Homo sapiens: one gene and its partners. The protein of the gene in region 5 purifies or fractionates together with the protein of the main gene of each other region. This does not show direct contact. Each region holds a gene or a part of one and is shown on either strand. Other genes may lie near its edges.

What was found.
Region 1: the proteins of B3GAT2 (region 5) and CACNA2D2 purify together in Homo sapiens (affinity purification with mass spectrometry; one large-scale study listed by BioGRID and IntAct). This does not show direct contact.
Region 2: the proteins of B3GAT2 (region 5) and CLSTN3 purify together in Homo sapiens (affinity purification with mass spectrometry; one large-scale study listed by BioGRID and IntAct). This does not show direct contact.
Region 3: the proteins of B3GAT2 (region 5) and FAM20B purify together in Homo sapiens (affinity purification with mass spectrometry; one large-scale study listed by BioGRID and IntAct). This does not show direct contact.
Region 4: the proteins of B3GAT2 (region 5) and ATP13A3 purify together in Homo sapiens (affinity purification with mass spectrometry; one large-scale study listed by BioGRID and IntAct). This does not show direct contact.
Region 6: the proteins of B3GAT2 (region 5) and ASIC1 purify together in Homo sapiens (affinity purification with mass spectrometry; one large-scale study listed by BioGRID and IntAct). This does not show direct contact.
Region 7: the proteins of B3GAT2 (region 5) and TMEM59 purify together in Homo sapiens (affinity purification with mass spectrometry; one large-scale study listed by BioGRID and IntAct). This does not show direct contact.

The regions. Positions count from the first base shown.
Region 1 is NC_000003.12:50,374,167-50,378,899, forward strand, and holds part of CACNA2D2 (voltage-dependent calcium channel subunit alpha-2/delta-2 isoform b precursor), read right to left. Parts: intron 4,168-4,733; coding exon 4,118-4,167; intron 3,932-4,117; coding exon 3,842-3,931; intron 3,638-3,841; coding exon 3,566-3,637; intron 3,376-3,565; coding exon 3,301-3,375; intron 2,023-3,300; coding exon 1,948-2,022; intron 1,869-1,947; coding exon 1,797-1,868; intron 1,715-1,796; coding exon 1,643-1,714; intron 1,540-1,642; coding exon 1,478-1,539; intron 648-1,477; coding exon 571-647; intron 1-570. UniProt on the Homo sapiens protein: The alpha-2/delta subunit of voltage-dependent calcium channels regulates calcium current density and activation/inactivation kinetics of the calcium channel.
Region 2 is NC_000012.12:7,132,631-7,137,363, forward strand, and holds part of CLSTN3 (calsyntenin-3 precursor), read left to right. Parts: intron 1-393; coding exon 394-516; intron 517-942; coding exon 943-1,138; intron 1,139-2,696; coding exon 2,697-2,905; intron 2,906-3,173; coding exon 3,174-3,323; intron 3,324-3,575; coding exon 3,576-3,761; intron 3,762-4,198; coding exon 4,199-4,480; intron 4,481-4,733. UniProt on the Homo sapiens protein: Postsynaptic adhesion molecule that binds to presynaptic neurexins to mediate both excitatory and inhibitory synapse formation.
Region 3 is NC_000001.11:179,063,286-179,068,018, forward strand, and holds part of FAM20B (glycosaminoglycan xylosylkinase), read left to right. Parts: intron 1-641; coding exon 642-813; intron 814-1,019; coding exon 1,020-1,211; intron 1,212-3,514; coding exon 3,515-3,574; intron 3,575-4,733. UniProt on the Homo sapiens protein: Responsible for the 2-O-phosphorylation of xylose in the glycosaminoglycan-protein linkage region of proteoglycans thereby regulating the amount of mature GAG chains.
Region 4 is NC_000003.12:194,401,729-194,405,374, reverse strand, and holds the end of ATP13A3 (polyamine-transporting ATPase 13A3), read left to right. Parts: 3' UTR 1-2,698; downstream 2,699-3,646. UniProt on the Homo sapiens protein: ATP-driven pump involved in endocytosis-dependent polyamine transport. Uses ATP as an energy source to transfer polyamine precursor putrescine from the endosomal compartment to the cytosol.
Region 5 is NC_000006.12:70,946,561-70,951,293, reverse strand, and holds part of B3GAT2 (galactosylgalactosylxylosylprotein 3-beta-glucuronosyltransferase 2 precursor), read left to right. Parts: intron 1-4,733. UniProt on the Homo sapiens protein: Involved in the biosynthesis of L2/HNK-1 carbohydrate epitope on both glycolipids and glycoproteins.
Region 6 is NC_000012.12:50,073,860-50,078,592, forward strand, and holds part of ASIC1 (acid-sensing ion channel 1), read left to right. Parts: coding exon of another isoform or gene 1-385; intron 386-3,108; coding exon of another isoform or gene 3,109-3,201; intron 3,202-3,353; coding exon 3,354-3,504; intron 3,505-4,140; coding exon 4,141-4,268; intron 4,269-4,558; coding exon of another isoform or gene 4,559-4,561; coding exon 4,562-4,718; intron 4,719-4,733. UniProt on the Homo sapiens protein: Forms voltage-independent, pH-gated trimeric sodium channels that act as postsynaptic excitatory receptors in the nervous system, playing a crucial role in regulating synaptic plasticity, learning, and memory.
Region 7 is NC_000001.11:54,046,705-54,050,204, forward strand, and holds part of TMEM59 (transmembrane protein 59 isoform 2 precursor), read right to left. Parts: intron 669-3,500; coding exon 563-668; intron 1-562.

The DNA of each region.
Region 1 (4,733 bases), on a different chromosome or scaffold from region 5:
GAAGGGAAGGGAGAGGAGGTGGAGGGAGGAAAGGGGAGGGGGGAAGGTGAGGGGAGGGGGGATGGTGAGGGTGGGGGGAAGGGGAGGGGGAAGGAAAAGGGGAAAGGGAAGGGGAGGGGAAAGGGGAGAGGAGAGGGACAGGAGGAGGGGGAGGAGAAAGGGGAGGGTAGGGGGAGGAGGAGGGGGAAGGGGAGGGGAGGGGAAGGGGAGTGGAGGTGGGTGGGGAGGGGAGGGGGAAGGTAAGGGGAGGGGGTGTCTTCCAAGAATGCAGCCCCCAGGAGTGTGTGGGGCAGGCAGGCTAAGGAGGGAAGACACGGAGTAGGAGAAACCAAAAACAGCAACCTCAACAGAAACCATGAAAGAATGGTCTGGAACCGAATCTGAGAAAAGGCAAGCATGCAGATTTCCACAGACTTTCGAGGTGCCCCAGCCTGCGGGCACCTGAGGGTGGGCAGACTGGGCAGGAGGGACTGCCTCGCCGGCAAGCGGCGCTGGCTATGCTGCCTGGGGCCGGCCAGGGTGCGGGGCAGAGGCAGGGTGCAGGGCGCAGGCAGGGGCCGGGCCACTTACACTTGACCTGCAGGATCTGGTCACTGAGATTGGCTTGGAGGTAGAAGGTGCTGTAGGGTGGGAGCACCAGCCCCAGGCTGAGGGGGGAGAAGCTCGGGTCACGGCTGGGGGGAGGCGGGCCACACTGGCACCCCCTCCCCATGGCCTTGGAGCTGGGCAGAGGCCCCAGCTGCAGCATCCCCTCCTCCCACCACCAGGGACCCCTCTCCCCGCTTAGCTGCAGGAGGTTCATGGTCTAGGGGCCGGCACCCTGGAGGCTCTCCACTTCTCAAACTCTCCTGGGGGCCACCGGGCAACCAGCCCCAAAGCAAATCCCCACACCATCTCCCCTCCCAGCAGCCTCTCACAACAGCCCCCTGCCCAGCCAACCTCCCTCTGACCCACAAGGGGCAGACGCTGCCGTGAGCTGGCTGCAATGCCAGTGTTGCCGTGGGAGTGGGGTCACCAGCCCCCAGATACTCAAAGCCAGCAGAAAGCAGGGCTGGCGCAGATATGGTGGGGGCAGGGGGTGGCAGTTGTGGGCTGGCATGGGCTGTGAGGATGCCCCGGCATTTCAGGATGGACTAGCTGTGTGGGGCAGGCAGAGGTCAGCCTGCACTGACCCAGCCTGACACACAAGGGACCTCCTCTGCCCTGAGACTGTGAGGCAGGCTGACAGCATGCCAAGGGCAGTATCCTGGGATGAGGAGACTTTGGATGACTGTGCTGTGCTCTCAGACCTGCTGCTTGTTCCTTAAAAGCCAGGGAGTCTCTTGGCAGACTAAGCATCTCAGGGTGAGTAGTGAGCAGCCCTGGCCACTGGTGCCCCACTGGGATGGTGGTCACAGTGGGAGAGGGAGGGGACAGCTGGGCTCAGATTCTGGGGCCACCCCACCCTCTCTGCCCGCCCAGCCCTGGCCTCACTTACCTGTAGTTAGTGCTCCTTATAGGCACCCAGGTGTAGTTCCGTGTCACCTCATCTATGTACCTCTGGGAGAGGAGGCTGGGTCAGGTACTTGGGCTAGCAGGCAGGGGGCGCTGGGGTAGAAGGGTGCCCACCCTGACTCCCTGGCCCCCAGCCCTGCCTCCTTACCTCATCCAGGGACTTGACCAACGTTCTGATCTGCTTGTGGCCCTTGTTGCCATCAATCATGCTCCGACGGATCTGGAAGGGCCAGAGATGTGAGGGGCAGGGCCCCTACACTCCTCTGCTCTGTCCCCCACCCCTGTTCTCCTCCTCTCCTTACCTCTTCCTTGTTCTCATCCTCTAGCTCCGCATCCAGGAAGTCCAGAGTCACAGGCTCCCGGAAGTTGGTGGTCTGTTGGAGGCAGGGTGGGAAGTCAGAAGTCCCCATTGTGGAAGGTTTGCCCACCCTCCAGGCCACCCGTCTGGCTCACCTGGGGCTTGAGATTGGGGTGCAGCAACACGTAGCCGTTCAGGTCAATGGCAAACACATAGCCGTTGGCTCCAAGCTGGAGGCACAGATTGGGGGCTCAGGGTCTGGAGGGATGGGCTGGGGTTCCCTGGGCTCCGGAGTTCTTCCCTATTTGGCCTCCCACCGCACCGAGAGATTCTGTTTGCCTGCCTTGGGCTAAGGGCCCCCCCATGCCACGTGGCCCTAAGCCTGTCTCTCCAGCCAGGCCCGCAGGCGGGTTGCCCCTTGTGCACCAGCCCTTGCCAAGGCTAACCGGCGTGTGGGCTGCTGCTCTGCAGTCCTCATCCTCTCCCCCTGGTTCTCATGAGCTGTCAGTTGTCCTGACCTCTCTGCCACCACCGGCCCCACAGGTCTGCTGCTTCTGTACCCCTGTGGCCCTCCTCTAGCCACTACTGCCCCTGATTTGTGCCTCCTCCTTGTCCCCACGTCAAGAGAGAGCAGCGGGACGAGTGGACCCTTCGGAATCCTACCTGGGGCTTCCCTTCCAGGTGGAAGGGAAGTAGGAGTAAGTGGGACCTGGACCTAGCCCTTACCTCCCCCAGTCAGTTTCTTACTGTACCTGGAGGCCAACTGCCACAGCCCCTGCCCACTCAGGGCCAAGCAGAGGCTTCAGGGGGGCTCAGGCTTAATGATGCTGTTGTACATACCACACCTCTCCCCCTTCCACAGGCCAAGATGCAGACTCCCTGACCGCAGGCGCTGGGCCAGCCACAATGCCATCTTGCCCCTACCCTGGTTTATGATTGTTTTTCACCTTTGGGCCCTTGGCCAGAGAATTCCCTCTGCCTCCAATGTACGCCATCCCCTCCTTTCCTTTCTGCCTGGGACACTCCTGCCTATGTGCATGGGCCAGGTCTGGCCTGCTGCCCATTACTATGTGGCCATGAGCTAAGAATGGTTTTATGTTTTTAAATGGCTGGAAAAAACATCAAAGGAAGAATTCTATTTTGTGACATGTGAAAATTATCTGAAATTCAAATATCAGTATCCACAAATAAAATTAAATTGGAACATAGCCATGCCCATTGTTTATGTTTTGTTTGTGGCTGCTTTCACAATACAACAGTGCAACCGAGTAAGAGATGGGTATGTAGGTCTGCAAAGCCTAAAATATTCAGTCTGGCCCTTTACAGAAAGTTTGCCAACCCAAGGTCACCTTGTTCTAGACCCAAGGTCACCTCCTGGGGAAGCCTTCCCCGACCCCTGAACTCAGAGGTCTCCATGGAGGCGCTGTAATACCCATCAGTCTTCTCTGCTGAGCCTGCCTGTGTCCACATGGGAGGCAGGGTACGCGGATGGGCAGGGGGATGCTCACCGTGTAGTTGGGGGTCAGCCTCTTGATGTCATTCAGAGCCACGTCAATGCCCATCACGCCCAGGATCAGCTGGTTCTGGGAGCAGAAGCATGGGGGGCTCCTCAGTGAGCTCAATTCCATGGGGAACCACCCTCCACAAGGCCTCAAGCTGCTCTCACAGGCAGTGTGCAGGCCTGCCCTGCCCCTCTTCCACCCTCAGACCTGCTGTGGGCATGCCCATTCCTCCCCAGGCACACCCATAGCCCCAACCCTCCCCTTTCCTCACCTTCTTTTCCCCAGGGCCATCCTGTGTCAGGTTGAAAACAGGGAGGGTCCCTGTTACCACCAACCCCAGTCCCTGAAGGGAGAGGAAGATGATGGAGTCACCTGTGGCCAGCACTGACCCCACCCTGAGTGTTCAGAGCAGGGACTGAGGTGCAGGCCACCTCTTTCTCCTGTGCTTGGTTTACCCCATAAGGGGGCCCTCCAGGGTCTTGACCCTGTGGGCACATCTCCGGGGGAAGGGTGCCAGCCCCACCCCTTCCTTGTCCAGAGGCCTTACCAGTGCATCCTCATACACGTTGGTCCACTGCACCTGCTTGGCCTCCTTGCCTGCCAGCACCATGGGCCTGCCCAACACATCTAGATATTCCTGGGGAGGGGGCAGTGGTGGGGGTAATGAGTGCCTTTCCCAGGCACTGCCTGTTCTGTCTCGCCAGGCATTGGGATTGTGCCCCAGCCACTGTGAGGGGGCGCCCTTGGCCCACAGCAGCCCATGGCACACAGCGTCCCTGCAGGGAAGCCAGGGGCTGGGAGGAGGGGCCTCCCCAAGTCTCACCTGTGTGTTGATGCGGATGGCTCCGATGGAAGGGATCTCAAAATAGTAGCCTGTGAAGGAAGGAGAGGCAGAGGTGGGCCTGGCTGGCACTGCAGGATCCATGTGCAGAGGGCCCTGCCCCTGGGGTGTGTCTGCAGCCCTGCCTCGCCTCTTGGGCTCCTCTCTTTTTGGGGTCCTCTCCCTCTAGTGCTCCCGGCCTCTGCCCTGCCAAGGGCGGTGCTATGGAGAGGGAGTGAGTGCAGCAGTATCAGGAAGCAGAGCAGGGGGCAGAGATGGGGAGGGAGGAGCCTGAGGTCTGAGGTCCCTCATTTTAGGGTGCAATGCCATTCAAAGTCCACCCGGCAGCCAGGCCCAAGTGCACAGAGAGATGGACGGATCAGCAAACAGACGCAGGAGTAGACAAGCTGGGGGACGGTTGGACAATGGACAGACAGACGGGCAAAAAGAGGCTCAGTTAGGTGGACCCGTTAGCCCCCAGATAGAGTGAGGGACAGCCTCGTGGATGGGAGGAGGCACACTGTCTTGCAGCGGGTGAACACACAGCTGGACATATGGATGGCCAGTTGAACATACGCAATCGACAAAAAGAAATGGCAGGCAGGCCCCTGACAGTGAT
Region 2 (4,733 bases), on a different chromosome or scaffold from region 5:
CCCTTTCCCAGGGCCTTCTCACAGCCCACCACTGCTCCCTGAAGTTCCCTGTCTCCATTCTCTAGCACGTGAAATCGCTAAAGAACATTCTCCACTTCCTGACCATGGTTCCCATGGAGATAGTGATCCCCTCCTCTTCACCCCCAGGGCAGGTTGTTTCCATGGGAACTGTCTACCCTGCTATAGGAGAAGGCTATGACCTCCCGCAGACCCTCTGACTCCTTTAGTAGCTGATTTCTTGTCCTCAACCACCCGCCTCCTGTAAGGTGCTCCTATAGGGGGTGGAAAAGGTGATGGTGCTGGGGTGTGAGTTGTCTGGGTCAACAAGGGTTGTTGTGGGAGTAGAGGCCCTGCTCACAGGTGCTTCCTCTCCTCTCCCTGGGGTGGGGCCAGCCAACAAGCACAAGCCATGGATTGAGGCAGAGTACCAGGGCATCGTCATGGAGAATGACAACACGGTCCTACTGAATCCACCACTCTTTGCCTTGGACAAGGATGCCCCGCTGCGCTATGCAGGTAATTGGGATTGGGGGATGGCAAGGCAGGGTAGGACAGAGAAAAGTGGGTGGGAGGGCCAAGAGCAAGGGAGGGAGGGAAGGTCCTGGGAGTGATGAGAAAGTAAGGGAAGATAAAAGTGGGCTCAAGGAGGGGAATGGTCTCCACTGAAGAATGGAGATTGAGTCAAGGATGCCAGAAAAGGACATGGCCAGGCAAGGGTTAAACACATCATGATTTTGTCAGATCTCAGGTCTGGAGGCTCTGGGAGGTTGCTGCTCAGGGAAGCTGGGCTTAGAGTTGCGTGTTTGATCATTAATGCTTTTGTGCCTACAGGAGAAGGGACAGGGCTTTGGGAGGAGAGGTGGAGCTGGACCCCAGGTGGGGAGACTGAGGGTGGGGAAGGAGACACAGCAGCCTCACTCCTCCCCTTCTCCCCTTTGCCAGGTGAGATCTGCGGCTTCCGGCTCCATGGGTCTGGGGTGCCCTTTGAGGCTGTGATCCTTGACAAGGCGACAGGAGAGGGGCTGATCCGGGCCAAGGAGCCTGTGGACTGCGAGGCCCAGAAGGAACACACCTTCACCATCCAGGCCTATGACTGTGGCGAGGGCCCCGACGGGGCCAACACCAAGAAGTCCCACAAGTGAGGAAGTCCTTGTCTCCTGCCCCATGTGTTGCAGGGTCCTCCTCCCTGCTCCCAAGCCCACCATCCTCTGTCCGTGCGGTCATCGAATATCCACCCCCACCCGCTGCTGTTCCTAGGACTTAGGGAGCCCCATCCCCTGCTGTTCCTAGGATTTAGGGACTTTCAGGCAAGGTGACAGAAACGTATAGTAGAGTTCAGTGGATCTAATCTTGGCTTTGCCTCTCATGACCTTGGGCAGCCTAGCCTTTCTGGACTTGCTTTTCCTTATCTGTAGAATGGAGATTGTGATGACACCTACTTCATAAGGCTGCTGTGAAGATTCAAGGAGATGGTTTGTGTTGAAAGCATGCACCACAGTGCCTGATACACGTTGAAGGGCACAGTACATGGGCATAATGATGAGGAGGAGAGCAAGAAGGAAGAGGATGAACACACTCAGCATGCATCCAGTTCCCTTTCAACTGCCCCCTCCAGTCTATTTGCAGTGTATACCACACACACGATCCCTATCATACACATATAGCTCTAGGTGAGGGTGGGCAGGCGATGGTTGTAGCAAGAAAGAGGCTCGGGTCTGGGACACCTACGCTTGTTGCCAGCTAACTTCTTATTTGAGAATAAGAGAAAGATCTTCAGTCAGGATTCCTGAGCCACTAAGAGGCACTAGAGATAAAATGCTCTTTGTGACTCAGTTTCCCATTTGAAGATAGGACCCTTGCCTCTGGGGCCTGGGAGCCTGGGTCTTGGCCTGGGGCAGGGCTCAGCATGAAGGGCCTCGACCCAGCTCTGCTTGCCCCGGTGCATGACTAGGGAGGGGCCGCATGTGCGGGAGGCAGCACTGCCCACACGTACTGTGCAGACATGTCAGATGACTTGTGACCTTTGTACACATGCCATTTCCCTTCTTATGGCTGGTTTTAATTTGGCTTTTACTCTGCATCTTCCTTGCTTATCCCCCCGGATCTGACTGTTGTGAAGGAAGGCCCTGCTGGATTTTATGCCTTACCCCTCCTCTTGGCACCCTGACCCATAGCATTTTGCACAGAAGTCATCAAAATCAGCTCCTGAGCACCCCTGGGCCTTGTTCCTCATCCCCTACATCAGTCCTCCTTTCTTTGGGCCCTCCCTCTGGTGTTGTCCTCTCCCTGGCATGACTTTGATGCAGCTTGGTGCCCTGTGGGGTGGGGAGGAGCGTGCTGACTGCCTCAGTCTCAGGGATAGATGGGCAGGCTCCCTCCTGTTCTGGCTCTCCGTCGGGATTCCTGCTTGCTCCTTTCTGGCATATGGGTGTACCGTGTCGAGGCTGTACCTTGGTGTACAGTATAAGGCTGTATCTCGTTGTGCCCATATTGAGGCTGTTTGTTGGTGTACAGTATTGAGGCTGTATCTTGGTGTACGGTATCGAACCTGTCCCTCCATGTGCCGTATCAAGGCTGTATCTTGATGTACCGTATCGAGGCTGTACCTCGGTGTGCTGTATCAAGGCTGTATCTCAATGTATAATGTCGAGGCTGGCTGACGTGTCTTCATCCCTCCTTCTCTCTGGCATATGCAGGGCCACTGTGCATGTGCGGGTCAACGATGTGAACGAGTTTGCCCCAGTGTTTGTGGAACGGCTGTATCGTGCGGCTGTGACAGAGGGGAAGCTGTACGATCGCATCCTGCGGGTGGAAGCCATTGACGGTGACTGCTCCCCCCAGTACAGCCAGATCTGCTACTATGAGATTCTCACACCCAACACCCCTTTCCTCATTGACAATGACGGTGAGTCCACCCCTGGCTTCCCTGGCCACCCAGTTCCCCTTGAGCACCCACCTCCCTCAGGACAACCCAGGGTTGCATTCTCCACTTTTGCCCCTCAGACCCTCACCTCACCCTTCTTCCCAAATGGAGCCTTCTCCTCCCAGATGCCTTTTTTCCCAGCGTCCTGCTGCCTAACCTGCCTGCTGCCCGATGATCTCAGACATCCTCCCCTCCCTGCCCTGGGCTTTCTCCAATGCTCTAATGCTCTGTCCTCCTGACCCCACCCCAGGGAACATTGAGAACACAGAGAAGCTGCAGTACAGTGGTGAGAGGCTCTATAAGTTTACAGTGACAGCTTATGACTGTGGGAAGAAGCGGGCAGCAGATGATGCTGAGGTGGAGATTCAGGTGAAGCCCACCTGTAAACCCAGCTGGCAAGGTGAGAGCTCAGCGCTGTGCCCCATCTTGTGAATCATCTTTTTTCTTGGTCTCTCTTTCTGTCCTTTCTGACAATCATGGGGGCCAGGCTAGGGCTTGGATGATATTGGGGCAGGCTTGCAGCTATCTACTCTAGCCGGGCCATCCTGCCAGGAGCCCCAAACTGTCCATGGACATGGCAAGAGGAGCATGGAGAGGGGAGGCTGCTTTACCCTTCTCTCTCCCCATCACCCTCTCTGTCTCACCCATGCAGGCTGGAACAAAAGGATCGAATATGCACCAGGTGCTGGGAGCTTGGCTTTGTTCCCTGGTATCCGCCTGGAGACCTGTGATGAACCACTCTGGAACATTCAGGCCACCATAGAGCTGCAGACCAGCCATGTGGCCAAGGGCTGTGACCGTGACAACTACTCAGAGCGGGCGCTGCGGAAACTCTGTGGTAGGTGTGCCCCCAACACTGCCTCAGGCCTATCCCTTCCCATCCAACCTCTGTCCAAACTTTTCCAAGACTCTGCTTTACATCACCACTGGCCATCCACAGGTGTTTATCCATAGAGGTTGTGACACGATTAGCATTTGCGGCCCAAAAGGCAGGTACATATGTCTTTGGCAAAGATGCATAGTCATCGCACCAGACAGTCACCGGATGCATGGTGGAACAATGGTAGGGCGAGATGAAGAGTTGGAGAATGGGTTAACTGGAGAGATACTCTTAGAAGTGAGTTCATCCCTCTCTTGTCTTTGAAAGGCCATAAAAGGTGGCAAGACGTGCTGTAGGAAATCTTTTCCCATCAGTCCCTCTTTCCCTGCCTCCTGCCCTTTTCACCATCTGCTGCTTCTTGGCTCTGACACTTGTGCCTCCTGGGGCTCCCACAGGTGCTGCCACTGGGGAGGTGGATCTGTTGCCCATGCCTGGCCCCAATGCCAACTGGACAGCAGGACTCTCGGTGCACTACAGCCAGGACAGCAGCCTGATCTACTGGTTCAATGGCACCCAGGCTGTGCAGGTGCCCCTGGGTGGCCCCAGTGGGCTGGGCTCTGGGCCCCAGGACAGCCTCAGTGACCACTTCACCCTGTCCTTCTGGATGAAGCATGGCGTAACTCCCAACAAGGGCAAGAAGGAAGAGGAAACCATCGTATGTAACACTGTCCAGAATGGTGAGCCTCCCCTCCAGGCACTAGCCAGAGGGGGAAACTGGCTTCTTGTCCCGCCTCTGTCACTGCCCAGTGTGTGACTGTGAACAGGTCACTTCCCCTCTCTTCATTTGTGAGGTGCAAGTGCCAGGTGTGATATGCCTTGATTCTGTGCTTTATCCCCAACATGACATGTTGGATCGTACTGCTGTCAGAGTGCAATGGGATTCCTTGCTGCTACTCTTGTTTTCAGTTGCCCAGTCAACTTCTCTGTGTC
Region 3 (4,733 bases), on a different chromosome or scaffold from region 5:
TAAAATAGTGAGTTTAGAGGCCAGACATGGTGGCTCATGCCTATAATCCCAGCATTTTGAGAGGCTGAAGTAAGAAGATCACTTGAGTCCAGGAGTTTGAGCCCAGCCAGGCCAACATGGCGAAACCCCATCTCTACCAGGAAAATACAAAAATTAGCTGGGCATGGAGGCATATACCTATAGTTCCAGCTACTCAGGAGGCTGAGATGGAAGGATGGCTTGAGCCCCAGAGGCAGAGGTTGCAGTGAGCTGAGATCACGCCACTGCACTCCAGCTTGGATGACAAAGCCAGACCCTGTCTCAAAACAACAACAACAACAAAAACAAAACAAACAAAAAGTGAATTTGAAGGATACTGGTGATGGTAGTTGACACCAGAGAGTGAGACTGGGTAGAAAGGACACAGGAGGCAAGGGCAACTTACTTTTGGGTGTATATCCTTTTGTACTTTTTAAATTTTTTTTACACCGTGTGCTTTTTTATTACCTATACAGGAAAATAAATGTTTGAAATATAGTAAACTCAGGGTCTTTGTTTTCACCATGCTTATTTACTTAGCTACTCTGTTCTGCATTATTTGGGAGAGAACTTGGAGTCTTCGTTATTTCCTTAAGTGTATTTGGCTCCTTTCTGTCCTTTAGGAAACAATACTTGTTTTTATGGGAAGTGCTATTACTGCCGAGAAACAGAACCAGCTTGTGCTGATGGAGACATAATGGAGGGATCTGTCACACTTTGGCTTCCAGATGTGTGGCCTCTGCAGAAGCACCGTCACCCATGGGGCAGGACTTACCGAGAAGGCAAATTGGCCAGGTAAATGCTCCTATGAGCCATTACTTAATTCTCCCCTGTGCCTAGCCAGGTGCCAACTCTGTAAAGGAGCCAGCAGTTCTGTCCAAGAGTGAAAAGAACTGTGGAGTCAGGGGCAAACCGGTAGGTAGGAACTCTGTCTTCTCTTTGTGTGTAACAGTGCCAGGTACAGTGTTGTCACTCAGTGCTGTGATGCTGCTTGTCTCCAGGTGGGAGTATGATGAGAGCTACTGTGATGCTGTGAAGAAAACGTCCCCTTATGACTCTGGCCCGCGCCTCTTGGACATCATTGACACAGCTGTCTTTGATTACCTGATTGGCAATGCTGACCGCCATCACTATGAGAGCTTTCAAGATGATGAAGGCGCTAGTATGCTCATCCTTCTTGATAATGCCAAAAGGTGAGACCAGCAGGACTGTCCTTGTCAGGGAGGGGTTTCTGTATATGAAAGAAGGGCATTTTCCAGAGCATCCTGGAGAATATCCAGAATGCAATTGATAGGCAACATCCTTCTTTTTTCCACTTGGAGTCTTTGCTATTGGTACCTGTCCTTCTCTCCACTCTCAGGGATCTCAGTACTTCAAAAAATGGAAAAGTGGTTCTTCCAAGGAGTCTAAGACTCTATGAGCCTCTTCTCAGACAACTGGAAAACCAGGGTTATTCATTTGTTACTACCTACATCGTTCTTTCTTGGCTATGATATTTGGTGTTTAGAAGCTTGAGAAATACAGATGTAATAGAGTGTGGAATTTGTCGTTAAATTTATTCTATCCAAAGGTTCCTGCAATTAAAAAATTAATTTATTTGGTAGGATGTTTTGCTATTTTTGTGTTTGTCTAGGTCCATACTTTTGCTGTCATGGGAAGAAGAGCTGTTGCCTAGTGTGGATTTTATATATAACAACAAGTTACTTTTATCTTGAATAAAAAATGTTTATTCATTTTGAATAAATAGAATGTCCTTATTTTTTTAGGCCTGAGCTATTTGGAGAGCACATTGTATTTCCATTTCATATTCTGCATTCTCTGTGGTGGCCGGTTTAGTGCCACACTTTTTTTTTTTAAGTTTTTTTGAGACGGAGTTTTGCTCTGTTGCCCAGGCTGGAGTGCAGTGGCACAATCTCAGCTCACTGCAACTTCTGTCTCCTGGGTTCAAGCGATTCTCCACCCTCAGCCTCCTGAGTAGCTGGGACTACAGGCACTCGCTAATTTTGTATTTTTAGTAGAGACAGGGTTTCGCCATTTTGGCCAGGCTGGTCTTGAACTCCTGACCTCAAGTGCTCTGCTTGCCTCGACCTCTCAAAGTGCTGGGATTACAGGTGTAGTGCCACACTTTTAGTTGCATTTAATAAATATTTACTAAATAGAACGCTTCCTTGGAGTACAGAATTTTCCAGGCCCTAGGTCACTACTGTTAACATTGGTTGTTGGAAATAAGCTAAGACATGGCTCCTCAGCAAAGAGTGCTTGGGCAGCATTTGCTAATGATGCCACCATCTTATACTGAACACCAGGCGCCTCATGCTTTGTGAAAGATGGTGATGGCCACAGAAAATGAAAAACCAGCAAACACTGCCTCTCCCTCTACCCCATTACAGCAAAGCACATAGCACTCATCCTGTGATACACATGATACTTGATATTTGGTGTATATCAAAATAGTTGCTTTGTCCACTCGGGCCGCTATAACAAAATCCCTTAGACTGGGTAATTCATAAGCATCAGAAATGTATTGCTTACAGTTTTGGAGGCTGGGAACTCTAAGATGAAGGTGCCAGCAGATTCAGTGTCTGGTGAGGGCCTGTTTCTCAGATGGTGCCTTCTATGTGTCCTCATATGGCAGAAGAGGTAAACACGCTCCCTCTGGCCTCATTTATAAGGGCACTAATCCCGTTCATGTGGGCTCTTCCCTCGTAACTTAATCATCTCCCAAAGGCCCTACTTCTTAATACTGTTGGACTGTTGTACCAGGGATTACGAATTTGAGGGGGACACAAACATTCAGACCATAGCAGTTGCCTTTGCCTTGAATTACTGGAGGACCTACACTGTACTAAGGGCTACCAGACTCTAGCTATTAAGGTGAGCCTCTGGAAAGATTGAAAGGTTGACAGTTTTCCAGAATCAGTTCTCCTTTTCTAACTCTGAATTGCTGCTAAGGTAATTTTTGCATCTGCTGTGAATCAGTTTCCTCAGCCTGTGTGAACAGTTTTTCCAATTTGAATCTGTACTTATACTTACTTGTAGGGAATAGGATATTGCTAATTTGGGAGTAGAATAAGTGTGACTTCTTTTTACAAGTAATGGTCATCTGCTTGTTTGTGGGAATCTAATATAAATGGCTTTTATTTCTCTCTGGTCCTTAAAACCTTTGCAGGCTTAGGGGTCTTCAAGTTCTCCCTTTGGTCTGTGAACTCCGCACTGTGTTTACCATAGTTATGCTCCAGCACCTTGTGATATCTTGGCAGGAAAATGTCCCTTGTAAATGAGTATATTTGTTGTCAGATATTTTAGTACAGGCTGTTAGGGATCCTGTGTCTAATTGGTCATGCCCCGCTTGTTTTCAATTTAAGTGATTTGAGCTGCTGGAGCGTGAAATTATCTAGGATCACATTTGAGTTTCATATAGAATTTGCTATTGCTTTGATGCTAAGAAGAGAACAGTACTTCCACCTAATTCACTAAGTTTTAATTTAATTTTCAGCTTTGGGAACCCCTCGCTGGATGAAAGAAGCATTCTTGCCCCTCTCTATCAGTGTTGCATGTAAGTTATGCACAGCAAATACATGTGCCTGCATTGCCTTCTTTTCCAGGCTCAGGTAACAGTACATCCATTTTCTTGGCCCTCAAACTTTCTGATACCTGAGCAGTGCTTTTCATACTTTTCCAACCTAGAACCTCTGGACATCCTGAAATGGGATATCAGGGAAAGGTGAAGGCAGATAACCCAAAGCTCAGAATTCATCTCAAATTTTGTATGAATAGAAGATTGTATGTATACAGTAATACATGTTTGGTTTAATAGCAGAATATAATCACCCACACTCCCCACCCCACTGCCAAAAAAAAAAAAAGGAGTAAAATCTGTATGCCTGGTTACTACACCTGGTTACCTTGTGGTTTTAACTCCTCTCACTCACCCATCACATACCACCTGGGGTTTACATATTTCAGTTTGAAATTGTCTAAACCAAAAGTAACTTTTTCCATAAATAATAATTTATTTTGGCCAGGCACAGTGGCTCACTCCTGTAATCCCAGCAATTTGGGAGGCCAAGGTGGGTGGATCACCTGAGGTCAGGAGTTCGAGACCAGCCTGGCCAACATGGCGAAACCCCGTCTCTATTAATAATACAAAAATGAGCCGGGCATGGTGGCAGGCACCAGTATTCCAGCTACTTAGGAGGTTGAGACAGGAGAATTGCTTGAACCTGGAAGGCAGAGGTTGCAGTGAGCCGAGATTGTGCCATTGCACTCCATTCTGGGTGACAGAGTGAGACTCTGTCTCAAAAAAAATAAATAATAAATAATAATTGGTTTTTTTAAAAAAACTCTGTATTAGAGAACAGAGAAATTGAAAAATGAGTCAAGAAAATGAGATAAAGTCTAAGCTCTAAGAAGCTTCTTTTCATCATTCCTGAAATAATTTTATTTTACTATTTTATTTTTTATTTTATTATTTTTTTGAGACAGGGTCTGCATCTGTCACCCAGGTAGGAGTGTGGTGGTGCGATCTCAGCTCACCGAAATCTCTGCCTTTCGGGTTTAAGCAATTCTTGTGCCTCAGCCTCCCGAGTAGCTGGGACTACAGGCACCTGCCACCAAACCCAGCTAATTTTTGTATTTGCAGTAGAGACGGGTTTCACTATGTTGGCCAGGCTGGTGTCAAACTATTGACTTCAAGTGATCCGCCTGCCTCAGCC
Region 4 (3,646 bases), on a different chromosome or scaffold from region 5:
ATGGTCTAGAGTTAGGAATGAGTGTTTATGGTGTTGCTTATAGAACAACTCAGGTAATCTCCATTTCTGGTTTTATATTTTCTGTACAAACTGCCTGGGTTTTATTTTTCTAATCAGCAAGGTGCTTCACTGCCTTCTTGAGACGCCTCTCAAAGCTCTTAAATGGCTCCTGTGCTATGTGTGGTGTTGGCAGTCTAATTTGCTTCTGTTAAATGTTGTAGAACCTTTTTCACTAGGAAATAAGATTCATTTCTTTCGGCAGTAGATGTAGATTCATCTTTTAACGTTTCTTCAAATTTGTTTCTGTCAGGCTTTGTGTTATTTTAAATGGTTTTTTAAAATTTTCTTCTATGTTTTCAATTACCTAAAGACATAGGATAATAGTTTTTTTTAAGTTAGAATTTTACCTCATAAAATTTTTTGAGGTTTGATGTATGTCTCTGTCTTATCAATAATGAGGCTTAAAAAATACTGGATTTGAATGGCTGCCGTTTTTTCAAAGCAATATGAATTTGATGAGTTTGTTTTATGCCATTAGGTGGCGCCAGAGGTCAGAACATGTCTATTTTGAATTGGATCGTTACAAATGAGCATATTTGATGCGGAAATTTCTGGGAGAAAAAAAATTGAGGAAATAAAGTTAAAAAATTGACATTCATTGAGCCAAAAGAGATGTGGAGAAACATTTTTCACCTTTCTGTTTGGCCTGATTAACATTTAAATTCTTGCCAAAATTAAGGTAACTTTTAAAAAACACCTTTTATAGGTGGATCCAGCAGTCTGGCAACGCCCACAGTTACCACAACACAGAAAACTGATCGTGCTATAAAATGGACGCTAAACTATGAAAACAGTGTGACATTGTTCTCTGTTCTTCCAGAGCCAGTAACATGCTTGCTCGTGCTTTCTACTTCTAGCTGATCATTCTTTTCCCAACATATATTTACAAATTTACCAAATTTTACCTAGAATTTTAGGACCAAATGGTTCTCACTCTTTATGCTGCAAAGACCTGGATGATGTTTGGTAACTATAGAAAAATAGAAATTACACTCAGGATCACTGTTACTGCTATTGCCACTGATGATTCCTGCAAAAATATAATCGAAGTTTTCCATCAAATGTATAATATGCTATTAATACACATTAGATGATAACAGTTGTTCCATGAATGATTCTATGAAGCTATGCATCTTAGACCTCTTGAGCTGTGAATTAGCACTATTTTCTATAGTTACTTATTCTCTGGATCATTTTATAATTTCCATATTAATTTCAAATATGCTCGTGTTATTCTTCAGTGATTTCCACAATTGTGCATTTTATTCTTTGGTTTAAGTACTGAAGCATATAATGAAAGTAATTGCTAAGTAGCAGCTTAAAAATTCAATTATCCGATTGTATTTAACATCTTTAAGAGCATGATCATAAAGAGCTATTTTTGACACCCCCCCCCCACTTTTTTAACATTTAGAGTTAGTAAGGGTTTTATATCTCTTCTGTCCATATTGTTTTCAAAGGAATGAGGTGTTTAGGTGGCTGGAAAAGCATTTGTAGGAAGTTAGATTTGAATATAGACAAGGTGGGTTATTCACGTTGAGAATGTTATTTGAAGAATGCCTGTGAAGCCAGGTGTGGGTTCTACTCAGTGCCATAGATAGACTGAGTCTTCTCTCGTAGGTTACCATTACATAGTAATTTTGATTCTGAATTTCACATTAAATTATTTGAGTTTATACAGACCTAAATTTTAAAATCTGTACATATATTATTTTGATGTATTAAGATGAATATTGCTGATTTAAATTTTATTTATGCACATACTTAAAGGACAGAAATGTCTGGGAAAGTAATTGTTAAATAATGATATGTAACTTTTTAACTTTTTAAATAAATAACAAGATTTTTAATGTGTGTCTCCCTCAGGGTTGTTTAAAGTTTTTTTTCTCCCTCAAGTATAAATAGTGGTAACTATATGTTTTGTATCTTCTAGCACCAACTGCTGTAAAGCAATGCTGCAAATAATGCTTGAATACAAGTGGCTAAGCCAACAACAGAATAAATACTTTTATAGTAGTTTTATAATCCTGAAATTCGAAAGCTTTCCCAATTGCACTTGCATCTAAACAAAACTGTTGCAGTTTTTACTCTATTTATTTTGTTCCCCATGTTTATGAAAGTCCTGCACAGTTTCAAAGGCATGGTAAATAATATATCAATGTTTATGTAGTCTGTTACAGAAACAGCTATAGATAACATTATCCAGTGAAGAGCAAAATTCAAGCTTTAGAAAATATTCATGCATGCAATTTTGACATATCTAAAAATAGGTTTTTGTATATTTATGGTGGGAGGTGGTTGGGAACTTTTAACAAAATGGGGTGTTAATTTTTGTACAGTCTGTGGGCATTTACACATTTTTAATGTATTAAAATTTGGTAATTATGTGTACATTAAATTAATAAAAGTTACTTCTAGTTATGATTTGTGAATTCCCTAAGACCTTGGATTTTTTTAAGTAACTTTATATCAGAAATGATACTGCATCTTTATATTTTTAAAATTGTATTGCTGCTCAAGAATGGTACCCTCTTGTCAAAAAGGCATACATTCATAATTGTACATTCAGCATTGTAAATAATCTTATGAAACCTTTTTTGATTGAAGCTATTCAAAATAAAAATTTTAATGAATGAAATAACACTTTTTTTCTGTGTCTTTATTCATTTGTTTGCTTTTTAGTGACATGAATACTGCCCTTTGTGGATTTATTTTCCTGCCTAATAATACTTCCCCATTTCCTTCTTTTTTTTTTTTAAAAAAAACTGGATTTTGAAGGAAATAAGAACAACATTCTGCATATCATGCCATGTGTGTGAGCATCCTGGGGAAACCCCACAGTCGGATGCAGTGTAGAGCCAAATGTTAAATGCGAGGAGGTCTGAGGGCAATGGTGAAATGAAATAGAAGAGTAGGGACTTATAATCTATTAATAGTTGGGAGAATCAAACCAAAAGCTAATACCATGGAGAGAGAAAATGGTTGTAAAAATCCCAGAGAAGACAGGACCTTTGTGTGTGGGTGGGAGTTGTTTCCATGGAGCTCAGCTCCGGGAGACACGGAGCCCCTGCTAGGGAATATGTGGCTGGCTGTGGTGTGATGAATTCGGGGGGTGAGGGCCTGCCTGCCTTTAGCTCAAGTTCTTAACAGTCGCTATGGTTTGTGCGGCATGTGTGATCCTGTCCCCACAGCCTGCTGGTGTGGGCACAGTTCTGCATGTCTCTCCTTCCGCTGTATCACTGCCAAGGGACAGGGAGTCCTAGGGGCTTGAGTGAGACTGTCCGTGGTCCAAGTTGGGGTGTGGTTGCTCCCTGCTGTGCCCGGCCCACTGAGTCTCCCTCAGAGGAAAAAGGCTTATCTCACCCAGGCACAGACCTGCTTTTGAATAGCCAAGCCCCTTAAGCCAGGTAACTGTTTTACAGCAGACTTCTGACCTGGTAATGGATACAGAATCTTAAGACTTGGAAGCACTGGAGCTGTCAACTTCCTTGCTCCAAATACTTCTCATTACCTCATCAACTTGCTCAGTGGATGGACTAAGAGTGTTCCCCCACTCTGCAACTGCCATACCTACTTTTCCCTTCCT
Region 5 (4,733 bases):
GCAAAAGCAAAATAGAAAATCCAAAGTCAATGGTCTTATTTATTAACTATTTCAGGTGGTATTCAAGTAGTGGTAGGTTTTTTGTTGTCGTCATTGTTTTTTGCACAGAATTCAATATTGTACAGATATGTCTATTTAAATGTTTTGGACTCTGGAATATTCAGCCTGTGTAAGTTAACACATATATATTTGATTCACAGTGCTTGTGAAGCATGAAATTTAAGTTTTGCATGGAGCTCAAATTCTCCCACCAAAATACAAATAAAATTGTTATACCAGTACATAGATAGATGCATAGGTAGGTTTAGAATACATCTCCAAAGCACAGAAATAAAACTAAGATAATTTGTTGTTCATGCCTGGTAATTTTTGCATACAATTTTAAATAAATGTTAATACCCTATATCATGGATACAAGCAAAATATAGTTGACATAAATTGAGCATTTACTATAGGCAAAGAAGTACCCTTAGGGTTTTACGTGTATTATTTAATCTTCATAACACCCTGAGGTAGGTAATAGTACTGTCTCTGTTTGTTTGCTGTTTTAATACTAATGCTAATATTTAGTTATGGACGCAGTCCCTTGGTGAGTACAGAGGACTTAAACAAATGCAACCTGACGGTAATATAGTTGTTTACCTCTGATCTATATAATCAGTATCCCCGTTTTTAACAGAAGCACTAGGAAGTAACTTGAAAATGTCATGTAGCTGTTATGTGGCAGAGATAGAATTTTGAACCCAGGTGCCCTGGTTCTAGCGCCTGCATTGTTGACTGTCCTGAAACTCATGTCATTTAACACATGAAAATATGTCATCATTATAATAAGTAAAGCACCTGATTAGCAGGAGCCTTGTGATATTATTACTGTCTTCTGCCATTTTTGAATTCAGGTCTTTCTTCTTGGTTATGTCAACTCTTAGCTTTCTCCTTTGACCTTTTGTTACTTTTTTCCTTTTTGTTGTTAATGTATTACATTGAAAAATAAAATTTTTTTTTTTTGCAAGAAAATGTACTTTATTAGCTTTCTTTGTTCTGTGGGTTGATCTTCCTGGATATTTCTTTATTTTATTTTATTTTATTATTATTATACTTTAAGTTTTAGGGTACATGTGCACAATGTGCAGGTTAGTTACATATGTATACATGTGCCATGCTGGTGTGCTGCACCCATTAACTCGTCTTTTAGCATTAGGTATATCTCCTAATGCTCTCCCTCCCCCCAACCCCCACCCCACAACAGTCCCCAGAGTGTGATGTTCCCCTTCCTGTGTCCATGTGTTCTCATTGTTCAATTCCCATCTATGAGTGAGAACATGTGGTGTTTGGTTTTTTGTCCTTGTGATAGTTTACTGAGAATGATGATTTCCAATTTCATCCATGTCCCTGCAAAGGACATGAACTCATCATTTTTTATGGCTGCATAGTATTCCATGGTGTATATATGCCACATTTTCTTAATCCAGTCTATCATTGTTGGACATTTGGGTTGGTTCCAAGTCTTTGCTATTGTGAATAGTGCCGCAATAAACATACATGTGCATGTGTCTTTATAGCAGCATGATTTATAGTCCTTTGGGTATATACCCAGTAATGGGATGGCTGGATCAAATGATATTTCTAGTTCTAGATCCCTGAGGAATCACCACACTGACTTCCACAATGGTTGAACTAGTTTACAGTCCCACCAACAGTGTAAAAGTGTTCCTATTTCTCCACATCCTCTCCAGCACCTGTTGTTTCCTGACTTTTTAATGATTGCCATTCTAACTGGTGTGAGATGGTATCTCATTGTGGTTTTGATTTGCATTTCTCTGATGGCCAGTGATGCTGAGCATTTTTTCATGTGTCTTTTGGCTGCATAAATGTTTCTTTTGAGAAGTGTCTGTTCATGTCCTTCACCCACTTGTTGATGGGGTTGTTTGTTTTTTCTTGTAAATTTGTTTGAGTTCATTGTAGATTCTGGATATTAGCCCTTTGTCAGATGAGTAGGTTGCGAAAATATTCTCCCATTTTGTAGGTTGCCTGTTCACTCTGATGGTAGTTTCTTTTGCTGTGCAGAAGCTCTTTAGTTTAATTAGATCCCATTTGTCAATTTTGGCTTTTGTTGCCAATGCTTTTGGTGTTTTAGACATGAAGTCCTTGCCCATGCCTATGTCCTGAATGGTAATGCCTAGGTTTTCTTCTAGGGTTTTTATGGTTTTAGGTCTAACGTTTAAGTTTCCATCTTGAATTAATTTTTGTATAAGGTGTAAGGAAGGGATCCAGTTTCAGCTTTCTACATATGGCTAGCCAGTTTTCCCAACACCATTTATTAAATAGGGAATCCTTTCCCCATTGCTTGTTTTTCTCAGGTTTGTCAAAGATCAGATAGTTGTAGATATGCAGCGTTATTTCTGAGGGCTCTGTTCTGTTCCATTGATCTATATCTCTGTTTTGGTAACTGTAGCCTTGTAGTATAGTTTGAAGTCAGGTAGTGTGATGCCTCCAGCTTTGTTCTTTTGGCTTAGGATTGACTTGACGATGTGGGTTCTTTTTTGGTTCCATATGAACTTTAAAGTAGTTTTTTCCAATTCTGTGAAGAAAGTCATTGGTAGCTTGATGGGGATGGCATTGAATCTATAAATTACCTTGGGCAGTATGGCCATTTTCACGATATTGATTCTTCCTACCCATGAGCATGGAATGTTCTTCCATTTGTTTGTATCCTCTTTTATTTCATTGAGCAGTGGTTTGTAGTTCTCCTTGAAGAGGTCCTTCACGTCCCTTGTAAGTTGGATTCCTAAGTATTTTATTATCTTTGAAGCAATTGTGCATGGGAGTTCACTCATGATTTGGCTCTCTGTTTGTCTGTTATTGGTGTATAAGAATGCTTGTGATTTTTGTACATTGATTTTGTATCCTGAGACTTTGCTGAAGTTGCTTATCAGCTTAAGGAGATTTTTGGCTGAGACAATGGGGTTTTCTAGATATACAACCATGTCATCTGCAAACAGGGACAATTTGACTTCCTCTTTTCCTAATTGAATACCCTTTATCTCCTTCTCCTGCCTAATTACCCTGGCCAGAACTTCCAACACTATGTTGAATAGGGGTGGTGAGAGAGGGCATCCCTGTCTTGTGCCCGTTTTCAAAGGGAATGCCTCCAGTTTTTGCCCATTCAGTATGATATTGGCTGTGGGCTTGTCATAGATAGCTCTTATTATTTTGAGATACGTCCCATCAATACCTAATTTATTGAGAATTTTTAGCATGAAGGGTTGTTGAATTTTGTCAAAGGCCTTTTCTGCATCTATTAAGATAATCATGTGGTTTTTGTCTTTGGTTCTGTTTATATGCTGGATTACATTTATTGATTTGCGTATATTGAACCAGCCTTGCATCCCAGGGATGAAGTCCACTTGATCATGGTGAGTAAGGTTTTGATGTGCTGCTGGATTCGGTTTGCTAGTATTTTATTGAGGATTTTTGCATCAATGTTCATCAAGGATATTGGTCTAAAATTCTCTTTTTTGGCTGTGTCTCTGCCCGGCTTTGGTATCAGGATGATGCTGGCCTCATAAAATGAGTTAGGGAGGATTCCCTCTTTTTCTATTGATTGGAATAGTTTCAGAAGGAATGGTACCAGTTCCTCCTTGTACCTCTGGTAGAATTCGGCTGTGAATCCATCTGGTCCTGGACTCTTTTTGGTTGGTAAGCTATTGATTATTCCCACAATTTCAGAGCCTGTTATTGGTCTATTCAGAGATTCAACTTCTTCCTGGTTTAGTCTTCGGAGGGTGTATGTGTCGAGGAATTTATCCATTTCTTCTAGATTTTCTAGTTTATTTGCGTAGAGGTGTTTGTAGTATTCTCTGATGGTAGTTTCTATTTCTGTGGGATCGGTGGTGATATCCCCTTTATCATTTTTTTTGTGTCTATTTGATTTTTCTCTCTTTTCTTCTTTATTAGTCTTGCTAGTGGTCTATCAATTTTGTTGATCCTTTCAAATAACCAGCTCCTGGATTCATTAATTTTTTGAAGGGTTTTTTGTGTCTCTATTTCCTTCAGTTCTGCTCTGATTTTAGTTATTTCTTGCCTTCTGCTAGCTTTTGAATGTGTTTGCTCTTGCTTTTCTAGTTCTTTTAATTGTGATGTTAGGGTGTCAATTTTGAATCTTTCCTGCTTTCTCTTGTGGGCATTTAGTGCTATAAATTTCCCTCTACACACTGCTTTGAATGTGTCCCAGAGATTCTGGTATGTTGTGTCTTTGTTCTCGTTGGTTTCAAAGAACATCTTTTTTTCTGCCTTCATTTCGTTATGTACCCAGTAGTCATTCAGGAGCAGGTTGTTCAGTTTCCATGCAGTTGTGCAGTTTTGAGTAAGTTTCTTAATCCTGAGTTCTAGTTTGATTGCACTGTGGTCTGAGAGACAGTTTGTTATAATTTCTGTTCTTTTGCATTTGCTGAGGAGAGCTTTACTTCCAACTATGTGGTCAATTTTGGAATAGGTGTGGTGTGGTGCTGAAAAAAATGTATATTCTGTTGATTTGGGGTGGAGAGTTCTTTAGATGTGTATTAGGTCCGCTTGGTGCAGAGCTGAGTTCAATTCCTGTGTATCCTTGTTAACTTTCTGTCTCGTTGATCTGTCTAATGTTGACAGTGGGGTGTTAAAGTCTCCCATTATTATTGTTTGGGAGTCCAAGTCTCTTTGTAGGTCACTCAGGACTTGCTTTATGAATCTGGGTGCTC
Region 6 (4,733 bases), on a different chromosome or scaffold from region 5:
GGCGGTGGCCTTTGTCCTGGCACTGGGTGCCTTCCTGTGCCAGGTAGGGGACCGCGTTGCTTATTACCTCAGCTACCCACACGTGACCCTTCTAAACGAAGTGGCCACCACGGAGCTGGCCTTCCCGGCAGTCACCCTCTGCAACACTAATGCTGTGCGGCTGTCCCAGCTCAGCTACCCTGACTTGCTTTATTTGGCCCCCATGCTGGGACTGGATGAAAGTGATGACCCCGGGGTGCCCCTCGCTCCACCGGGCCCTGAGGCCTTCTCTGGGGAGCCCTTTAACCTGCACCGCTTCTACAATCGCTCCTGCCACCGGCTGGAGGACATGCTGCTCTATTGCTCCTACCAAGGGGGACCCTGCGGCCCTCACAACTTCTCAGTGGTGAGTGGAGCCCCATGCCTGCCACAGTACCCCAAGAGTGTCTGCCATGGCTGTCCCTGACTGTCACCTCCTGGGGTTGGGGCTGGGGCTGGGGCTGGGGCTGATGACTGTGCTGCCCCCTACCTCATCTGGCTGACACAGGCCAGAGCTCACCCAGGAGTCCGGGGCCTGGAGCTGGGCTGGTATTCCCAGGTCCACACCAGTGCTGCTTTTCCTGTTAGAATCTTGAAACACGTCTGTCTTAGTTGGTATTTTGCTGCTGCCTCCCAACATGTCCTCCAGCTTTACCTGCCCTTCTCAAGACTTCCTCATGGTCCAGCAGGGCCCGGGACCTTGCTCCATCTGTGAGGTCAACCTTTGATCTGTTGGTGGACGCCAGTGCCTGGCCAGTTGTTCACTATTTTGACTAGCACCCATGGACTGAAGCTGGGGTGGGTGCTGCCTGGTCTCTGGTGGTACAAGAGAAGGGAGTGAAAGGGTGACAGTAGAGGGGTGGGGATATCCCCCAACCCCACCCCACCATGGCCCTTGTCAGCATCTCCTGCAGCAGGGACTTCATTGCATCTTCACTTGGTCTTCCTGTGCCCTCCTATGGACGCCCCACCCCCACCAGCTCTGTGTGTGTGTGTGTGTGTGTGTGTGTGTGTGTGTGTGTGTGTGTGTCTGAGGGTAAATAACAGGTCTCTAAATCATATCCCTCTCCCCAGCTTTAAGTGGCCAGGGACCCTCTTCCTAGGGGAAGCTCTCACTGGGAACTGTCCTTCTGCTTGGCCCCCCACCCAGGGGTCCAGGGCTTTCCCTGCTGGGGGGCCACCTGGTACCCCACTGTCTCTCCTAAGTTCATCTTCCAGGTCTGTCTGGCCTGACTGCTCTCCTGCCCCACCAGCTCCCAGATGCCAGGCCTTCCCTGCCCCACACACCCATCCCTCAGTCCTCCACCCCCTCCCTAGCGTAGGGGCAGGGGGTGTCATCATACCCGTGCATCATGGGATGACTGCAGGCATACAGGGGCCTGGGGGTTTGGGCCACTGGGCCTCAGGCCAGGAGCCATAGGAATGTGTCTACCTCTGGGCCCGAGAGTAGAGCAGACAGTTCTCACCCAGGCCCACCAGGTGGCAGCAGCAATCCACTGTACAGCAGCCCTGTCCTCTGAACCGGCGCAAGACAGGGCTGCTAGCCGGCCTCAGACACCTCTAATCCCATACAACTCCGGATGGAGTGTAGGCATGGGCATATGTCCAGCCTGGAGCCTGTGGCTGGGTGCCGCAAGACCTGGTCATGGGGCTGGGGACTAGGAGCCCTTGGAGTTCTCTCTTTGCCTCATCTCTGGACCTCACCCACAAAGTGGGGAGAGCAGTATGTCTCCTCTTCTGGAGGTCAATGGAGGAGGCTGTTCTAGGAAGGGGGAAGGGGGCAAAGACCGTATTCCCTAGTAACCTACTGCCATTGCTGCTCCAGTCTGGCCTGAAACTCTTTTGTCTCTCCCCTGCTCTGGGCTGTATTGACTCACCTTATGACCTGTTTTGTGGACTTTGTCACCATCCAGCAGTAGTAAAAGCACAGCCACCCCAACTTGGGGACATTCAAGGAGGCTGTGGGGAAAAGGCCAAGGATAACTGGTTTACTTTTCTCTTTGCAGCTTTTTAATCAGCACTGTGACCAGGGCTGCACTGGGGCATGGAGTGGGGAGAAGACTGGGGAGACAGCCCCTGGGGCTGAGATATCTTCTGAGGCCCTCCTAGTTTTGCAAAAGCATTAACGCACACACCATGCCCTGGGGGCTCAGTCCCAAGTGCTGGAAGAAGAGGTGCTGGTGCTTGGTTGAGTGTGGTCCTTGGCATGGCAACTGGGTCTACTTTCAGGTTCTGCTGATAATGGGATAATGGAATAATGATGGACCCAAGGGGCTAGGGGCTGAATGAAACCAAAAAACTGAGTTTGGCTGGGCACGGTGGCTCATGCCTGTAATCCCAACACTTTGGGAGGCTGAGGCAGGTGGATCACCTGAGGTCAGGAGTTTGAGACCAGCCTGGCCAACAGGGTGAAACCCCATCTCTACTAAAAATACAAAAATTAGCCGGGTGTGATGTTGTGCACTTGTAATCCCAGCTACTTGGGAGGCTGAGGCAGGAGAATCACTTGAGCCCAGGAGGCGGAAGTTGCAGTGAGCTGAGATCGCACCACTGCACTCCAGCCTGGGCAACAGAGCAAGACTCCATCCCAAAAAAAAAAAACTGAGTTTGGGTCTTGGGGAAAGCAGAATTTCAGATTCCCAGAGTGAAATCTAGGAGAAGAGAAGATATGTCTTGGAGGGCCTCAGGAGCTTGGGCCTGAGGAAAGTGTCCCAAGGAGGGGCCGTGTTAGGATCCTGGTGATGAAAATGTATATGTCAGGGTCCTGGCAGGAAAAAGACAGCTACTTGATGATTTAATTGAAGACTTTAACAAAGGGACTGCTGACAGAGCTGGGGGCAGGGTTAAGGAAACCAATAAGGGGGACTGAGGCAGTGAGCAGTACTAGGAAATCGTTATCACTTCTAGGCTGAAGAAGCACAAAAGAAGACAGTGCTCTGTAGGGAGCCCTGGCAGGATCTGTAATCATGGAGGGCCTAAGGCACTACTAGAGCTACAGAGGGGCGAGGGCTGGGGAAGGATTCATACCCCAATCTTTCCTCCTGCCTTCTGAGCCATTACCAATACCTCCCAACTGTCAACCCCAACTAGAAGCCCATGCAGGTGGCAAAGGAGCTCAGGCGATGCACCCTACCAGGAACAGTTTTCCAGGGCACACAGAGGGCAAGAAAGGGTGAGAAACAGGTGGGAGAGGGGAGCAAATGGAGAATGGGCTGCACGGGAGGAACCATTCCCAAAGGGTGTTGAGATTCCAACAGCTGGGGTGGCTAGGAACAGCCCTTGGTGAGTAGAGGGTGCTGGCAGGACTCTTAGGCTCTCCACTCTGCCCTCGCCAGGTCTTCACACGCTATGGAAAGTGCTACACGTTCAACTCGGGCCGAGATGGGCGGCCGCGGCTGAAGACCATGAAGGGTGGGACGGGCAATGGGCTGGAAATCATGCTGGACATCCAGCAGGACGAGTACCTGCCTGTGTGGGGGGAGACTGGTACGTCACCCACTTCAGGGGCCCCTCTGCATGGCTCTAGGCCCCAGCCTCTGCCAGGGGATTCCTGGGCTTCACTGTGAGACCTGGGCAGGGCCCGGGCTTTCCCCTCTCCCTCCAGCATCTCACCATCTCTATCACTGACTCTACCTGACTTCCACACTCACATCTCTCTGGCTCCCACTTCCTGGTTCAGTTACTCTCCAAGGTAACCAGCCATCCTCTTCCATCAACGCCGCCGCCACTCTATAAATAACTCCCTCTCTTCTCGGGCTGCCTGCCTGTCTGGTCTCGGGGGGCCTTGGGGCAGAGAGAGATGGGGGAAAAGGGAAAAAGGGAGTGGGAGAAATGGAGAGCATCTGAAACAGTGACACTCTGGGAGAAAGTATTTGAAACATCAAGATGCAGAGCAGAAGCCAGGTAAGAAAAGAAGTGTGTAGGATACAGGGGTCATCGGAGCAGCTCAGAGCTGGTAAACCCAGAAGGAGGCTAGGGGGTGGGCTAGGACCCTATAGACTTCCCCCACCCCAGCCCCAGTGCACCCTATGCTTATTTCCAGGAGAGGTAGGATGCCCCCAGGTCTGAGGGGTGTTAGGGAGTCAGGAGCCCTCCCAACCCACACACTCCTCATTCCCCTAGACGAGACGTCCTTCGAAGCAGGCATCAAAGTGCAGATCCATAGTCAGGATGAACCTCCTTTCATCGACCAGCTGGGCTTTGGCGTGGCCCCAGGCTTCCAGACCTTTGTGGCCTGCCAGGAGCAGCGGGTGAGAGGGCCATGGGAGGCTGGTCCTGGGGTGGGGTATTGAGGGGTCCAGATGGAGTGGTGGGCAATCAGTAATGGGAAGGACAGGTGAGCAAGGACCTGGGTGGTAATCTGGCTAGTCAGAAGCATGAGTGATCGAATGAACAAGAATGCTCTGTAAACTCTGAGACCTTTGGAGGCTGCAGAGGGAGAGGGGAGCAGAACTCCAGAGATCTGCATCTTGTCAGAGGAGTCCATCAAGCTGATTTGGGGAGAAGTCCCCGCACTCCCCCAGCTCCCCGGCTCTCCCAGCAGCTCATCTACCTGCCCCCACCCTGGGGCACCTGCAAAGCTGTTACCATGGACTCGGATTTGGATTTCTTCGACTCCTACAGCATCACTGCCTGCCGCATCGACTGTGAGACGCGCTACCTGGTGGAGAACTGCAACTGCCGCATGGTGCACATGCCAGGTCAGGCCTGGGGCT
Region 7 (3,500 bases), on a different chromosome or scaffold from region 5:
ATATTCCATTATAGTTATTTAAAAAGTTAAACGTCAATTGTGTCCTGATTATAGGTTTCTTTTGTTAAACATATTGCTTTCAGCAAAAAGAAAGAAAAGTGGTTTAACAGATGACAAAGCCTCTGGCTACTTATTTTAATGGCCTGACCAATGAATAATATGCTATTAAATACTGAGTCAAAGGCCTGATTCAGTAAAAAACTTGGAGATAAGTCGATGAACTTATGATTGAAAGGTTTAGGAAAATTATACTATCTGTGAAAAGGTAGTAATGAATTGTGAGTAGGGTAATTATACTGCATTTGTCTGACAGAATGCTTGGTTAAACAAAGGTGTCCTATTCATAGCAGAAAATAAACACTGTCTCAACAAACAGATGAAATTTAAAGCCCATGAAATTTCTAGCAGCAGCTACGAAAACTCTTAGATCCATAATAATTACAATATGTTAGATGACTAGTTTCAACAGTGTGTTTTCCATTTCCTAAAGAAAATACTTCAAAAGCTTATCACAAAGAAAACAATGTTACATACAGCTGATGTCGTTAGCATAGCATCTTACCAGATTCACATTCCAATTTAGTTCGATTTAAGTCAATTCCATCATCCACAAACTGACAAATTGAAAACAGCCTGCAACCTCTCTGACATGCGTACAACTCCTCTTCCTAGGGAGTTCAAGAACAGGAAGGGTTACCAAAAAATAGTATTTTTTTTTCCTCAGGGGAAAACAGGTTAGGAAGAAAGCAGTTAGTAAAGTTTATTACAAATCGTCCAGTAAGTTTCATAACTGAAAGAAAAAAATGATAGGAGCCAGTTGATACTCAAGACCTTTGCCATATAGAGGTTTTAGTTCCTTATTTTAAAAGTGATACGAAGAAAAAAGCCTAGTAGGTAAAACCACCACCCTTTTTCCATTTTCTTTGGTTACAATCTGTGGGGGGGAAAAATTAAAAATAAAACTAATAGTGACAGGCCAGGTGCAGTGGCTCACACCTGTAATCCCAGGGCTTTGGGAAGCTGAGGTGGGAGGACTGCTTGAGGCCAACAGTTTGAGGCCAGCCTGGACTATATAGCGAGACCCCATCTGTACCAAAACAAACACACACACAAAAATAACTGGGTATGGTAGTGCACACTTGTTGTCCTAGTACTCAGTAGGCTGAGGTGTGAGGATTGTTTGAGCCCAGGAGTTTGAGGGTACAGTGAGCTATAATCACACCACTGTACTCCAGCTTGGGGTACAAAGTGAGACCCTGTTGCTTAAAAAACAACAACAACAAAAAACACAACGGTGATATAACTAGAACTTTAACAGCGATAGGAGTAAGCAAGTACCCTAGGACCAATGGCATACTTCTGCCACATCCCTGTTTATATGAATCACCAGGCTTATCAGGAAAAGTATCAGACTAGCTTCACATGGCAAATGGTGACACAAGGGCCTGATAAAGTAAGGTATACATCTATAAAAATGTTTATATGAAGGGATTTTTTAAAACTGGGCTTACATTAAATGAAAACACAGGAGCAACAGTGTGGTGTATGGGAAAGGACACTGCAATCAGCCAGACCTAGATCAAACCTTTTGGGTGAGTGCATAAGTTATTTTACCTGTCTAAGAATCTCAGCTTTCTCATCAAAAAAGGAGAGAACAGCCATTATCTCCAAATTCCTCAATAATTTGGAAGCTATTTCCAGTATAGTGCCTGGGATGTAGAAGGTGCTTAATAAATGGTAATAGTGTTAATAGATTTTTAAAATAGAAAACAATTACAGGCATCAATGTATACGTGTGAAAGCTTAAGACAGGATGGACATCTGGTTCTTCATTACTGTAAAATATTAACTGCTTAATAAGACTAATGTCTTCAGCTGTTTTTCTTTGATAAAATAAAAGTATTTAAAAAAAGCTATTGCATATGGGGGAGCCCCCTCGACTTACTATGTGATCCACTGTGTACAAACTGGCAGACACCTAATAAGGAAACAGCATGTGCATATACCAGTTAGCAACCAATGAAATACAAGCTATGTATTTCTTTCCAGCAAAAGGATTAGTAAAATTTACGCAGCAGCAACAATCCATCAAGAAGAGATGCCTGCAGTCTAATATTAAATATACTTTATCATACAACTTTGAAGGTAGCACACTTTTGGACCTCAGTTCCAACTGCATTTACTGTTAAGATGAAATTGAAAGAATTTTAACAATTGAGATAGATTTCATATCTGAGTAGCTGTTGCAGGCTTTGTAAAACAGTTAAAGAATTATTTTATGTCTCTGGAGCACCACATATTTCCTTATATTGCACAAAGGAAGCATAAGCTCATTAGTATGAGCTATACCACATGCCATTTCATTCTCAGATATGCTTTCCTTTAATAAGTCATCCAGTACCAATTTCGGAAAACCATATGGCATGGTGAAAAGAGCCGAGGTTTCAGGAATCGGCCCTGGTTTGAAGCTCAGACTTGCCACTTATTCTGCACAACCTTTGACAAGTTACTTAATCTAATTCCTCAGTTGTAAAATAAGGACAATACTCTTACATCAATCCTAACTACTATTCATTTATTTTCTACTGCCTGTATAATTGCAGAGTGTCAATCTTCACTATTAGGAGAATTATATATTTATATCTACAATAGCATTACTACTATGTAGTACTATCTAATAGACAGACATATTTAATGAGCATCCACAATGTGCCAGGCACTGTATTAAGACTTAACAAATTATGAAACATCTGGTATGGAGCAGGCACTCAACTGGTAGCTATCAAGAATCATATCTTTATTCTAAGTATTTCATGTTATATATACAAAAATAATGATTTCAAGTAAATATTTCATGCCCTATGTATCCCAAATGACTGGCAAGTTTATATAACATGTATCTCCTCTGATTTAGGACACAATAAATAGTGCTTCCACCATATGAAATACCAGCTAAATTCATAATTAGAAGGTCCCTCAATGGTACTATTTAGGCCAGGCACCGTGGCTCATGCATGTAATCCCGACACTTTGGGAGGTCAAGACATAAGGACCCATTCAGCCCAGGAGTTTGAGACCAGCCTAGGCAACACAGCAAGACCCTGTTTCAATTATTTTAAATTAAAAAATAAATAAATAGAAGTTAAGTGATCAGCAAGGACAAACAGTAATCAAGGAGCTGGGAATAAAACCAGGTCTGTATGGTTCTAGAGACCACACTCCATTAAAAAATGACCAGGCTGGCTCTAATTAGCTTTTTTATTAACATGATTTATGTCTCTTGTTTTTTCGACCGAGATAAATTATGCAATTGCACTTCTGTAGATAAAACATAGAATAATTTAAAAATAACTATTTACAAACAGGTATTCTACTTTCTTGCAACAAATAATTAGTTCTCAAAAAGTGTCTGAGATTTCTTTTTTTTTTTTCTTTTTTTGAGATGCAGTCTTGCTCTGTCCCCCAGGCTGGAGTGCAGTGGCACAATCTTGGCTCACTGC